Homo sapiens: one gene and its partner. The protein of the gene in region 1 interacts with the protein of each later gene in a pairwise test. Each region holds a gene or a part of one and is shown on either strand. Other genes may lie near its edges.

Evidence for each region. The genes of interacting proteins can lie anywhere in the genome.
Region 2: the proteins of RNF8 (region 1) and PPCDC interact in binary tests that used the Homo sapiens proteins (3 or more experiments, as listed by UniProt).

Annotation. Positions count from the first base shown.
Region 1 is NC_000006.12:37,370,792-37,377,986, forward strand, and holds part of RNF8 (E3 ubiquitin-protein ligase RNF8), read left to right. Parts: intron 1-720; coding exon 721-783; intron 784-3,828; coding exon 3,829-3,918; intron 3,919-6,134; coding exon 6,135-6,242; intron 6,243-7,195. UniProt on the Homo sapiens protein: E3 ubiquitin-protein ligase that plays a key role in DNA damage signaling via 2 distinct roles: by mediating the 'Lys-63'-linked ubiquitination of histones H2A and H2AX and promoting the recruitment of DNA repair proteins at double-strand breaks (DSBs) sites, and by catalyzing 'Lys-48'-linked ubiquitination to remove target proteins from DNA damage sites.
Region 2 is NC_000015.10:75,018,913-75,026,624, forward strand, and holds the start of PPCDC (phosphopantothenoylcysteine decarboxylase), read left to right. Parts: upstream 1-4,677; 5' UTR 4,678-4,714; intron 4,715-7,712. Other genes in the region: SCAMP5 (secretory carrier-associated membrane protein 5), read left to right, coding at 1-71. UniProt on the Homo sapiens protein: Catalyzes the decarboxylation of the cysteine moiety of 4-phosphopantothenoylcysteine to form 4'-phosphopantotheine and this reaction forms part of the biosynthesis of coenzyme A.

The DNA of each region.
Region 1 (7,195 bases):
GAATTTATCTTGTTGAGGAGGCAAGATGTTTCCTGCACACGATATAATCAGAGAATAGTTTTCAGTCAATATAGTAAATTAGAGAACAATTTCAAGTTGGCATATTAAATGGGTAGGTAATTCTTAAGGACAGAAGGGCCCAGAAGTTCTTTTGGAAGGTGCTGGACATATAGGTTAATGATCACCTGGAAAGCTTCCACATTGGAGGGGGCTGATGAGGAAATACAGCATAAGCTCAGGCAAGGAGAGAGGAGGAGCAGAGGAGCAGTGTATAAACTGAAGTGGTAAAGACTCAGAATGAGAGACAAGATGGCCAGAGTAGAGGGAAAAGAAGCATGCTAGATGTTGTGAGTGCCAGCACTGGGAATTACATCTGAGTTTAGGTATTTGGGGGCTCAGAAGTTCTCAGTTTACATCCTTTTGGGAATCATGGCGTTAGTCCATGAAGGAGGCTTGGACTGTTAGGCCATAGTATTTCCAGAACAACCCAATTGGTGGCTTAAAGCCGACAGTCCTGAAGTGTGCAGTATTTGAGCAGATAACTGCTCAAATTCTTTACTGCCAACAGCTTGAAGTAAAACAGGAGATTTTCCACCTGCTCCCTCACCCCTGTTGTTTCCAGATGCTCATACTAGCTGGTCTGCTCTGCTTGTTGCTGGATTGTGTTCCTTTTTTTCTTTTCCCTGCAGAGAAACCTTCCATTTTGTTTTGGCTTTGCAGGGTTTGGAGATAGCCCAAGGAGAAAAGGACCTGAAGCAACAGCTGGCCCAGGCTCTGCAGGAGGTAACTTTGCCATAGTACTAAGATTATAGTGGGCTGTGGAGTGGGGAGCAAACAGGCATCACATGACCACTGGCTGCCTCTGCTGCTTAGCCCATACCTCTGTGGCATCCCCAGTCTGTAAACAGAGCAGGTGGCAGCTGCTCACACCATCAGATCAGAGATTTGGAGCCTTACAAACATGCCAGACCTCAGCATGAAAACTTACATCTTTGTCTGAGCAGAAGTTGCTCTGGTGAAGATGGAATGGAGCTTTAGCAGTTAAGAGGCTCTCTGGGGAAGTGGCTCCACTTCTAGAAAGGTGAGGGCAGCAGAGGGAAAATGTGAGGTATGACTTGGCCACCAGGGCCCGTGAAGGCCTCTGTTACCGCAATGTTCCTGAGCTGTAGCCAACCAGAAACAATTGGGGAATGTTCCAGTTAAGCATTTTAGGCCAGGTTGAGAATGTGCAGTTTAACAATCAACAACACATATCAATTTATTGAAAAGGTAAAGCTCAACAGGACTAAAATTCTCCTAAAAGATTGCCTGTAATTTATTTAATTTAACCTGACTACTCTCATTTGATTATTTTTTTGTGTGCTCTTTTGCATCTTTAAAACCTACTATGTCTTCTACCTTTTATGTATTATGATTAGTAGTTTAGTGCCATTTAGTCAGGATGGTTCAAATCTCATTGGAAAGAGTGAGCAAATCACATAGGAATTTGTTCAGGGGAATTTATCCTTTTATCGTAAACCTACTTCCCAACCTTAACAGTGCTAACAGTCATACAGTATTGTAAGCATGACAGGGTGCCTGCCTTGATCTCCTTGAGGGTTGCACAAACAGCTTTGGAAAGAATTAGATGAAAATTAATTCAATCTTTTTAGAATTTTATTTTTTGAGCTTGTTTATTTTCTAGGGTGGGAGAGTAGGCATGTTTCCCATTTGGAACATTATTAAGTTAATATTCAGACATTGTTTTGAAATTGAAAAAGAATGTGGTTCTGCTAGTTGGAAATCCCTGAGGGATCACTGAGTACCCTGCACCCTCTCCTGAGACAGGAAAACACTCTATCATTTTGCATGGGATACTTGGCCATGCATTTATTAGCTTAAAATGTGATACTTTTAGACCGGGCACGGTGGCTCACGCCTGTAATCCCGGCACTTTGGGAGGCCCAGGCAGGCGGATCACCAGAGGTAGGGAGTTCAAGACCAGCCTGACCAACATGGAGAAACCCTGTCTCTACTAAAAATACAAAATTAGCCGGGCGTGGTGGCGCATGCCTGTAATCCCAGCTATTCAGGAGGCTGAGGCAGGAGAATCGCTTGAACCCGGGATGTGGAGGTTGTAGTGAGCTGAGATCGTGCCATTGCTCTCCAGCCTGGGCAACAAGACTCCGTCTCAAAAAAAAGTGATACTTTTAGGTCATGGTTCTATACCATCATGCCTGGGGGACATGCCACTCTCATGCAGTGGTGGTTTTTTGTTCCACCATGCTGATACTTTTGAAAGCTGTTCTTTACCAGACCATTATAAAAACTGTTTTTATAATGGTCTTTTATAACTGATTTCCTGTTTAAATCACATAATACCTTCCTCTCCAATCTCCAAGAAACTACCACATCTTTTTAAACCGAGTGATTCATAAGTTCTCAGGGAATTTGACTATAGTTAGAAATGGGTCCAGACCTTCACTGCCCTAAGCAGTCTGCCAGTCTTTGCTTTGAGTGGAAAAGAAAATAAAAAGATGTGTTTATATACAGCTCAAAAAACTTCTCTGAATGCTTTTCATACCTGTTATTTTCTTATGAACACTGAGGGAGGAGGGGGCACCTATTTTCCCATTTCCTTTTATTTTTATTTTGAGACAGTGTCTCGTTCTGTCACCCAGGCTGGAGTGCAGTGGTGCAATCTCAGCTCACTGCAGCCTCCGCCTCCTGGGCTCAAGTGATCCTCCCACTTCAGCCTCCTGAGTAGCTGGAACCATAGGCGCGCGCCACAATGCCCGACAATTTTTTTGTATTTTTGGTAGAGATGAGGTTTCACCATGTTGCCGAGGCTGGTCTCAAACTCCTGAGCTCAAGCCATCCACCCGGCTCAGCCTCCCAAAGTGCTGGGATTACAGGTATTATGAGCTACCACGCCCGGCCATATTTTCCCATTTTATAGATGAGAAAGTTAAAATACACATATCTAATTAGTGTGTCAAGTTGAAGACCCAGGCCTTTTGACATAACTGCTTTTTTTTGTCAGGAGATCACACATTTTAAAATTTGGTTCTTGAATAATATCTTTTCAAAAATACTTACCTTTACTCCACCTTCTTTTAAAAAGAATTTGAGGTGAGATTCTAAAGTATAAGCTATACTTAAGCATGAGAGAACTCATAAATTATGTTTCATATATGTGGAACCTCTTGACATTCAGCATAGGCATTTAGTCACAATGAATGAGCTGTTAGCTCCTGGGTGTGCCTTCTTCCAGAAAACACTGGCAGGGTTCAGGCAGCATTGTCTGAGCATGTAATATGTGATTTGTAGAACAAATAGGTTAAAAATCTTTTTTATTTCAATAAAAATGACTATCTAATTCTGCTGATTCCCATTTCCTCCTGATTATTTCATAAAAGCTGCTTCCAGTTCTGAATAGCTTTTAATTACTTACTAGTTCTTAAATACTGTTCCCAGAATCACTTGGGTGGCTTTAAAAAAAAAGAAAAAAAGAAAAGCACATTTCTGGGCTCCAAGCCAAACCTATAGAAGCAGACTCTGGGACACAGTGAAAGTTCTTCAGTTGACTTGGATGGCCACCAATGTTGGGTTAGTTTTAGAGGCCCTAGTCCATTTGGTGGCCGCCTTCCCTAACTGCCCTCTCCCCTGAAAAAAGCAGCAGGTAGGTAAGATAGCCCAATGGAATAAAGGTATTATTTTGAAATTGCCAATTTATCGATCCCTGAACCACAAAGTCACTAACTAGAGGGAGAGAACAGGCATGTTTGTGGCTAAAAGGAAGGATGCATTGTAGTTCATCCTGAGTATGTATCTGCTATGTTTTTGCAGCATTGGGCTCTAATGGAAGAGCTAAATCGCAGCAAGAAGGACTTTGAAGCAATCATTCAAGCCAAGAACAAAGAATTAGAGCAGACCAAGGTACTGGAAAGAAGATGGAAGTTTAGAATTTGGTTAGTGCATGCAACTCAGCATTTTCAACAGTGCAAGGGTTGCTAGGGAAAATAAAGAGAGAAATTATGGCTGCTCCTTGCCTCTGGGGAGATAATCTATAAAATTATAGAGGCCTATAGCAGGTTCTGCCTGTCAGACAACATCTATTTCCTTCCCTTGTTCAGAAGCAAAATGCTGGGAATAAGGCACTTGCATCCTGTATTCTAGTCCTTTGTCTATGGTGGGTACTCCTTCAGAGTGTGTCACTGATACAGACTGAGGAATATTGTAGTCAAGAAATAGTTCCTCCTGAACTATGTAATTTGAATTACATAAAGTAAAGTGAATTACTTAATGCAGTTTCTTCCCATGTCAAATCAGGAGAACTCTTGAATTAGGGGTTATAAACTTAAATGCCCACCAGGGCCAGACTGGTAATCAAAGTGAGTGAAGTGGCCTGAATGTAAGAACACAGTAGGGAGCTGTGCGGGCTATGGCTTATTGGATGGGGTACTTGCCCACACCCCCATCCCAGGAGGCAACTCTTCTCTGCTCAGCCAATTGTTGCCATCCAGAAGTGCAGGCCCAGTGTTGTCAGATCTTCTGATTTTTCCACAGCAGATGAAAGTCCAAATGTTTAAGTGAAATATCCCAAATTTTAAATATTGGCAACAACTTCAGCTTTTTGTGTGTGTTTTAATATGAAGGCCAAACTAAACAAGTCTGCAGGGTGGATCCAGTCCACAGGCCACCAATTTGCAACCTCTGACTTGAAATTAATACCTGAGTCTGACTGCATCTGTCATCCCACCCCCTCCATGTACCAACCTAGAACTGAAGGAGGGACTTGTTTTAGCTGGTTTGATTTCCTGTTTAAATCACATAATACCTTCCTCTCCAACCTCCAAGAAACTGCCACATCTTTTTAAACCCAGTGATTCATAAGTTCTCAGGGAATTTGACTATGGTTAGAAATGGGTCCAGACCTTCTTCACTGCCCTAAGCAGTCTGCCAGTCTTTGCTTTGAGTGGAAAAGAAAATAAAACAATTAAAAATGAGCCAGCCACTCAAATATACCTCAAATGGCCTATCCTCTCCCCCTCAGGGGCTCTTAATGCTTTTTGTTTTGGGGGTGAAGTGCTAAAATAAATGTCTGCTTCAAGAGAGCATACGTAGGAGCCTCCTTAAAAAGTGTGTCCACACGCAGTCTGACCTCTTGGGGAAAGCCGGGGAGATGGTACTGCAGGCCTCTGCAGGAGTGGGAAGTGGCAGGTATCATAGAGCATGGAGCCTGAAGGTAATTCAAGAGGCCTGTCTCCAGCCTTCTGCCTCCAGAGGTGTACCTTACTTTACAGAAAAGGCAGCTGCAAAGAACACAGCAACTTTATAACTAATTCAAGTTTCCTGCCTCTGGACTATTCATGCCTCTTTTCTTGTCCAGTGAGTTTTTAATTGTTTGGGATAATCTTATGTAATGTCTGAACTACAGCTTGCTATAAACTACTTAATGTCCCATCTGGTCTTGGGTGGTTGGTGTGGTTAGTATGTCACCTGCATTTTTCTCATTTGATTAATTTTGGGGAAGGAGACAGAATTTGCAATGCAAATACTGAAAAAGTGGTGTTTTAGTCCATTCAGGCTACTACAAAAAAGACCCATAAACTGCGTAGCTTAAAAACAACAGAAATTTATTTCTCACAGTACTGGAGGTTGGGAAATCCAAGATCAAGATGCTGGCATGTTTGGTGTCTGGTGAGGGCTGTCTTCTGATTCGTAGATGGAGTCTTGCCATGTCTGTCCCTATATGGCGGAAGGGGCAAATGAGCTCTCCTTGGGCCCCTTTAAGGCCACTAACCCCATTTATGAGCATGGAGCCCTCATGACCTAGTCACCTCCCAAAGGCCCCACCTCTTAATACCATCACGTTTGAAAATAAGTTTCAACATGGGAATTTGGGAGGAAGCACAAACATTCAGACCATAGCAAGTAGGGAGAGGAAAGAAAGGAGGTTAGTGCTCTGTATTAGAAAACAATTATTGAAAAACAATAAGCCTTAGGGAAAGTGTTCTATTCTTAATGTTGCTGCACCAGAATGAATCACTCATTAAGACTGAATCCTCTTCTAAATAATTGACCCTGCTCCCTGTCCCATTTTGCATTTTTGTTGGTTCTCTGAATGACAGGTAGGATTGTGTGTCTTGCAGGAAGAGAAGGAGAAGATGCAAGCACAGAAGGAAGAAGTTCTTAGCCACATGAATGATGTGCTAGAGAATGAGCTCCAATGTATTATTTGTTCAGAATACTTCATTGAGGTAATTATGAACAGTTGCTCACCCCTTCTTTTTTTTTTTTTTTTTTTTTTTTTTTTGAGACAGAGTCTCACTCTGTCAACCCAGGCTAGAGTGCAGTGCCACAATCTCGGCTCACTGCAACCTCCACTTCCTGGGCTCAAGCAGTTCTTGTGCCTCAGCCTCCCAAGTAGCTGGGTCCCTTACAGGCACATGCCACCATGCCTGTCTAAGCTTTTGTATTTTTAGTAGACATGGGGTTTTGCCATGTTGGCTAGGCTAGTCTCGAACTCCTGACCTCAGGTGATCTGCCCACCTCAGCCTCCCAAAGTGCTGGGATTACAGGTGTGAGTCACCACACCCAGCCGACCCCTTCTTATTCTCCCAACCCTGAATGAAGCCTGGGCTACACAGGCTGCTTCTACTATAGGGGAACATTCTGAAGAGATTTTCTTCCAGGAACTTATAACTATTTGATTTCAAAGTCACCTCTAGAGATGACCACCTCTTATTTGTTTTTATAATCTTCTTTCCCTTCACTGTCCTTTTTTGGCATTTCATCTGTTCTTAAATGTTTATTTGGTATGATTAACATTTTGAGCTGCAATGAAGCCTTTATCTCTTTGTTGTTGAGGAGAAAACAGGGCCAAATTAGATTTTGGAAGTATCAGAATAAAGCTGCTCAATAAAAGCTATTCTTTCTTTACTCTGAATGGGCACTATGCCGAGAATATGCTTATAGTGCAACCTTTTAAACGAGGGGGTAAACGTCATTAAAATGTGGTCACTTTGGGAATTTACGGCCCAAGTTGAATATATTTCAGGGACTCTGAGGCTCCTTATGGAAATGAAACCTCTACCATTTGTTAGCCTATCATATTTTTGCACTGGCTTATTTATTTATTTGACAAATTCTGCTGTTTGTGACCAGTTCACCTTAGACCACAGATGTTAAATTCAAGTTGCTAAATGACAGT
Region 2 (7,712 bases), on another chromosome or scaffold:
AGGGTGCCATGAATCAGCCTCAGACTCAGTATTCCGCCACCCCCAATTACACGTACTCCAATGAGATGTGAACCAGCCACGCCTACCAGGTGGCAGAGCTGGGGCCATTGGGACAGGGGGCTCAAGCCACATCGTCATTTGTGGTTACCAAGCAGGGTTCCCCCTTCCCTTTTCTCCTTCCCTACTTTGTACAAAGGACCAGAGTTATATATATATATATATGTATATGTCTGTACCCCAGCCCCCACCTTTCAGATTCTGCTCTTGGCACTCAGCTGTGGGCTGCACGTGGAGCTGTCCCGTGCGGTAGTAGCTGTGTCTGTGTCCCCTCGTGAAATAGTGTGCAGTGGAGGTCTCTTGTGGTGCTAGATGTGTGTTTAGAGCTAAACCAGCCCCCACCCCCACCCTCCACCTGCCCCTCTTGCCTCTGGCCCCTCTGACCCTGGCCCAGGGACCCCTCACGGGGCCAGGGGAGGCATAGCAGAAAGACTGGCCCCTTCCTAGGGTTATGAGCTGGAACTGTTTCTACTTTCAGTCTTCCTGGGAAGTAACAGTACTTAGCACTCTTGGTGGTGGGTGGGAGGGTGGGTACAGGCCAGGGATATTCCCTTGCTCTTTTGATCCCTCCAGGCCTCGCCTCCTTCAGCCTCCTCCTCCCTCATCTGTTCCCTGATGTCACATTCCCTGTGCAATCTTCCCTTGCCCATGGTCTGTCTATCTCTTTCCTATGTGGCTTTTCTTTGTCTTCCCCAAGGCTGAGTGTCCCAGTTTTATCTGCTCCTGAGACTGAGCCCAGATCCCCAAATCTAATCTGATTTACAGTTCAAGGAAGCTGATGGGGAGCTGGGCCTTACCCCTGATGTAGGAGGGGCACACAGCTGGGGGTGCAGAGCCCACCTGGGTACCTGACCCCCAGGGGATGAAAATGCAAGGATGAGTCTGCTTGGGCCTGAGAGTTTGATCTGCAGGGGCAGGCTCATCTTTTCTCTCCCCTGCCTTCTCCTCCTTCTCTCCCCAGAGCCCCCTTGAGCCCCTCTGCCTATGTCCCTCTGCCTCCTCCCCATGCCCCCAGTTGCTGTGGCTTGATTCTGCTACCCTGACCCCACCATGTGCCAGGTGGCATCTGCCTTACTGCCTTCCCTGAGGAGCTGGGACATGCTGGGCAGTTGTCAGATGTAAAGGCACAGCTGGAGCAGAGGGCATGTCAGTAATGATTGGTCCCTGGGGAAGGTCTGGCTGGCTCCAGCACAGTGAGGCATTTAGGTATCTCTCGGTGACCGTTGGATTCCTGGAAGCAGTAGCTGTTCTGTTTGGATCTGGTAGGACAGGGCTCAGAGGGCTAGGCACGGAGGGAAGGTCAGAGGAGAAGGCAGGCAGGGCCCAGTGAGAGGGGAGCATGCCTTCCCCCACCCTGGCTTGCTCTTGGTCACAGGGCGGTTCTGGGCACTTGAACTCAGGGCCCAAGCAGAAGCACAGGCCCAGTCCTGGCTGCAAGCACAATAGCCTGAATGGGATTTCAGGTTAGGCAGGGTGGGAGGGGAGGCTCTCTGGCTTTAGTTTTGTTTTGTTTTCCAAATCAAGGTAACTTGCTCCCTTCTGCCTACAGGCCTTGGTCTTGGCTTGTCCTCACCCAGTCGGAACTCCCTACCACTTTCAGGAGAGTGGTTTTAGGCCCGTGGGGCTGTTCTGTTCCAAGCAGTGTGAGAACATGGCTGGTAGAGGCTCTAGCTGTGTGCGGGGCCTGAAGGGGAGTGGGTTCTCGCCCAAAGAGCATCTGCCCATTTCCCACCTTCCCTTCTCCCACCAGAAGCTTGCCTGAGCTGTTTGGACAAAAATCCAAACCCCACTTGGCTACTCTGGCCTGGCTTCAGCTTGGAACCCAATACCTAGGCTTACAGGCCATCCTGAGCCAGGGGCCTCTGGAAATTCTCTTCCTGATGGTCCTTTAGGTTTGGGCACAAAATATAATTGCCTCTCCCCTCTCCCATTTTCTCTCTTGGGAGCAATGGTCACAGTCCCTGGTACCTGAAAAGGTACCTAGGTCTAGGCCCTTCTTCCCTTTCCCTTCCTCTCCCCTACCCCAGAACTTTGGCTCCCTTTCCCTTCTCTCTCTGGTAGCTCCAGGAGGCCTGTGATCCAGCTCCCTGCCTAGCATCCATGACCTGTTGGATGTTACCTCCAATCAGTTTCCTGTCCTACCTGCCTCTTTGGCTTGGACCTATATGGCCATGCTCTGGCTCTACCCTTGGGAAGCCTGATCCCGGTGTGTGGCCCAGCTTGTTCAGGCCCTGGGATGCTGCATCTCCAGGCAACTATGCACTTTCCCGGGGAGAGAACCAGTATGAGAAGTGGGGGCAGGGCACACATTCATCTTTGTAGGAAGGTCTGGCCTGGGGTCGGGTGAAGGAGGGCCCAGGTCAGTTCTGGGGTCCCAGTGACCTGCTTTGCCATTCTCCTGGTGCCGCTGCTGCTCCCTGTTTCTGGAGCTGGATGTTCCCCAGCTGGCAGTTGAGCTGCCTGAGCCAATGTGTCTGTCTTTGGTAACTGAGTGAACCATAATAAAGGGGAACATTTGGCCCTGTGTGTTCTGCTGTGTCATGTGTCTTCCTGTGGACTTGCGTGGAGCCTCACAGCGGGCTGTGGGGCAGGGGCATGAAAGTATGGGGGGTGGGTGGATCTGTGGTCTGTCATTCCCCGAGACCTAGAGCTATACGACCCTGTGTGGCTCCTTCTCTGAGGCAGCCTTCAGTAGGTGATGAAATTGCCACCTAGGCCCCCTGCCTTGGGAGGAGGAAGTAGAAGAAGCAGGCTGGATCGGCCGGGCGTGGTGGCTCACACCTGTAATCCTAGCACTTTGGGAGGCTGAGGCGGGTGGATCACGAGGTCAGGAGATCGAGACCATCCTGGCTAACACGGTGAAACCCCATCTCTACTAAAAATACAAAAAATTAGGCGGGCGAGGTGGCAGGCACCTGTAGTCCCAGCTACTCGGGAGGCTGAGGCGGGAGAATGGCGTGAACACAGGAGGCGGAGCTTGCAGTGAGCCGAGATCGCACCACTGCACTCCAGCCTGGGCGACACAGCAAGACTCCATCTCAAAAAAAAAAGACACGGCTGGATCCCTGCGTAAGGGATGGTTTGGCCCAGATGGTCCACTGCGGCTAAGGGCGGGGGTAGAGCAGAGGCCCCACCTCAGCTCAGGGCAGGGGACCCGCAGCTGGTTCAGCCACCTCAATGAATACAGAGGTTCCTGGGGCCTGTGAAGGCTAGAAAATGAAGGGGGCAGGGAAGCATGCCAGTGTGTGTTCTTCTGCCGCCTTCCCTTTGCCCATTTGATGCCTTCCACCTGGATCGCTATTGGGATCCTCTATCTAACCTCCTGGCTGTCCTTCAAGATTCATTTCAAGTCACTCCTTCAAGAAGGCTTTCCTGCCTAGAGGTGTTGCTTCCTCATGGAGGATCTTACCCTGTCATTTTCTGTGTCCCTGTTTGTCTCAAGAACAGGGACGCATCTGATTTATCTCTGTATCCTGTGCACCTAAAATAGAAGAGGCTTGGTAAATATTAAGTGCCACGAGCCCTCTTTTACTAAGGACCTGCCAACATGGGCCCCATTCACACTAATACCATGAAGATAGCCCTTTTCTATACTTCGTCATAAAAAAGTAATACACACACCCGGGCAGCAACTTCCACACAAACAACACATGTGCAAGGAGATCACCATTATTTCCAGCAAAATGCTCCCCAGGGCCGAGCGTGGTGGCTCACTCCTGTAGTCCCAGCACTTTGGGAGGCCAAGGTGGGCGGATTGTTTGAGCCTAGGAGTTTGAGACCAGCCTGGGCAATAGAGTGAGAACCCGTCTCTACAAAAAATACAAACATTAGTCTGGCATGATGGTGCACTCCTGTAGTCCTGGCTACTCCATAGGCTGAGATAGGAGGATGGCTTAAGCCCAAAAGGTGGAGGTTGCAGTGAGTGGAGATAGCACCACTGCGCACTCCAGTCTGGGTGACAGAGCCAGACCCTGTCTCAAAAAAAAAAAAAAAAACAAAAAAAAAAACAGCTCCCCAACAAGATAGCAGGCTACAACATGCATGTGATGAAGCTGATTTGAAGCGCTCAGTGAGAGGTATCTGCATCAAGTTGCAGGAGGAGAAGAGAGAAAGGAGAGATAATCATGTTCCTGAGGTCTCAGCCCTGGATCAGGAAATCATTGAAGTATTAACATATCCTGACATTAAGGAAATGCTGATGTTTTTGGACTTTGGCAGTCTGTCCAACCTGCAGGTCACTCAGCCAACAGTGGGGATGAATTTCAAAACGCCACGTGGAAGCTGTTTGAATCTTTTTGAGATACTGTAATATTTTCAATAAACCTGGGACAACAGCAAAAAAAAAAAAAAAAAAAAAAAGGCCCCAAGCAACAAGCAGTGTGTGTGGGGCTGATAGGAGTGAGGAAAGGAGGTCGGACAGTTATGCCAGCCCCTATCGAGAGTCCCAGCAATACAAAGAACAGGGCCAGGGTTTGCTCCAGGATTTCCCCAGTGGACTACAACTCCCGGAAGGCAGAGAAGTGGACTACAGCTCCCAGAAGGCTGCGCGACATACAGCCAGCCCGGTGCTCTCGTGAGGCGTGCCAGTCAGATTCCGCGGGAGAGCGGCAGAGATACCGCGATATTTGGGAGCGGCCCCGAGACGCGCCTGGCGCGGGTGAGCAGTGGAAGGGGGCTGGGAAGCTGGGTTCTCGCGGCGGCGCGGGAGGGGAGGTTCGGGGAGCTGTGTCCGCGAGCGTGGGTCCACGGCTGTCTGTGTGTGTCCTTATTTTCCCCTGTGTGCCCATGAAGCTCTGTTTGCGACTGTGCGTGGGTAGGCGGCCGTCCATCTGTGCGACCTCACTTTCCCGGCTGTACGGGTGGGGCCGCCTGGAGCAGGAGGGACCCCCGAGCCCTGAGTGGAGGGTTTGCATCTGTACCCGTCCAGCCCGACTTTGTGCTGCTCTGCGATTATTTGTCCAGTGTCGTTTAATCTAGTTTAAATGATGGCCGTGTCAGCTCCTCACACTGAACGCTTACCCGGGCTGCCCAAAGTACAAAGTGTATTTAAAAAGTTGGTAAAATTAAAAAAGGAAAGCCATGGGATGTTGGAAGTAGCCCTAGGCCTGCCAAAAAGTGCTGAGTGCTATTTAAAAATTAGGCCAAATCTTGTCAGAAAAGAACTTCCTGCTGTCCTTGAAGTATTTGGAAGCAGGTGCTAGATGGTGAGCAGGAGAGGTTGCCAAGTTGGGGAAGTGGTGGTTGTCCTGGAGCAGGGGTTTCCACATCTCTCACAGTGGCTGGGAAGTAGCAATTCGCAGTCACTGCCTTTCTAGTAGCCCACGTGTGTGAGTGTGTGTGTTAGATACATTTATCCCTCAGTATCCGCAGGGGATTGCTGTATACTTTTTTTTTTTGAGACAAGGTCTCATTCTGTGACCCAGGCTGGAGTGCAGTGGCAGGAACATGGCTCACTGCAGCCTCGACCTCCTGGGCTCAAGGGATCCTCCTGCCTCAGCCTCCTGTGTAGCTGGAACCACAGGCATAAACAACCATACCCGGCTAATTTTTATTTTATTTCATTTTTGTAGAGACAGGGTCTCACCATGTTGCCCAGGCTGGTCTCAAACTCCTGGCTCAAGCTATCCTCCTTCCTTGGCCTCTCAAAATGCTGGGATTACAGGTGTGAGCCACCACATCACCCTCCTGTATACTCTTTTTTCTTTTCTTTTTTTTTTTTTGAGTCAGGGTCTCACTCTTGTCTCCCAGGCTGGAGTGTAGTGGTGCAATCATAGCTCACTGCATCTTCGAACTCCCTGGGCTCAGATAATCCTCCCACCTCAGCCTCCCAGGTAGCTGGGACTGCAGGCACGTGCCACCACGCCCTCCATATAATTTAAATAATCTCTAGATTACTTATAAAACCTGATACAGTGTAAATGCTATGTAAATAGCTACACACTTTTTTTTTTTTGTGGTACTATTATTATATTTTGAAATGGTCTCTCTCTGTCACCCAGGCTGGAGTGCAGTGGCACAAACATGGCTCACTGCAGCCTTCTAGGCTCAAGCGATCCTCCTGCCTCAGCCTCCCAAGTAGTTGAGACCACAGGCATGTGCCACCACACCTCACTAACTTTTAAATTTTTTGTATGGGGTCTTGCTATGTTACCCAGGCTGGTCTCGAGTACCTGGGTTTGCTCAATCCTCCCACCTTGCCCTCTTAAATTGCTGGGATTACAGGTGTAAGCTGGAGCAGAAGCCTGGGCAGCCGGTAGTGAGGGGCTTTGATGTTAGGCTAAAGGATTCAGGCTCATAATGGATCTTGGATCCCTGCCTACCCACCACCCACTTCCCTTGTTTGGTTCTGCTTTGTCTTAGGCTCAGTTCTCATCCTTCCTGTATTGAGCTTGAACGTATACCCTGTCTGGCCTTGCTTTCCTTGCTCTGTCTTTAGTCTGGTTCTGTGCCAGCTCCACCTTTGCCCATATAGGGACTGGCAGGTATCCCTGAAACCTAAAACTCTGCCCTGAATTAAACTCATCAGAGGAGACTTAAACATCACAAGCTGAGGCTCTTTGCTCTGTCTGTCCCTGTCTTTCTGGAGGATAGAGAAGCTGCCATTTTTCTGGCTGTGGCTTACCTGCTTGGCTAGTGCCCTGGGATCTTGAGGCTCAGTAATCAAAGCGTGTAGCCCTATAACCTGCCCACTTGCCAACTCTTTTTGCTGCTCAGGAGTTCCTGTGAATTCAGCAGAGCCCGGGGAAGTCAGGTACTACAGCTACCTGTGCAAATAGGTGACTCCAACAGGTTCTGGTTACAGTAATAGACTTACTGGTTTGGAATTTGATCCTCTTTGCAAGCAAATGAAGGAATCCTGCCAGCCATCACCCTTCCTGGAATTCTCAGGTTGAACTGATTGGACCTCGCCTCCAAATGTTGGTTAAATGATCCACTTTCTATTCTTCAAGTATATTAAGCACACACATACACACACACACCCTCTTTTTTAGGAAGGTAGGTAGGTTTGATCCTTAGCACAGCTTTGCTAAGCAGGCTAAGTACTGTATTTCGGACTATAGTGCCTGCTGTGGGGAAGCAGTTGAAGTCACTAATACAGATTCCTGCCCCAAGTTTAACTGACTGCTTTCTGTAACCTGTTTCCTAGGAATGAGATCAGCTTGATGTGGAGGAGGTTCAGGGGCCTCAGAGATAAAATTTGGCTTCTGGTTTTGCAGGAATCTACCTATCCTAGCACCAGTTGGCTAGGGTGGGACAGGGTCAGGGTTTGCGATCTGGCAGGTAGGTTTCCCTGGAGAATAAAGAATGTGCCTCCATCACCTACCAATGATGTGTTCTGGGAAGAAGCTGGCTGGTAGCCCTTCTGTACCTTGTCAGATTCTAACAGGGCTCCCCACTCCCTGGGGTAAACTCAGTTCTCCAACTCTGGCCAAGCATTGCCCTGGTTGGGGCCCTGCAGTGGAGCAGACATTGAGATTACTGGCAAATCAAACTTTGGGTGATCTTGCCCTAGGGAACCAGCCTGTGCTTAACCCCTGCTGAGAAGTGGGATAATGCAGCCAAACATGATCCTCAGCCCACGTGGGTTGTGCTCAAGTGCTGAAGGCAAATCCTGGGCAGAGAGGCTAGAGAGCCAAGGGGCCTGTGAGTGAAGA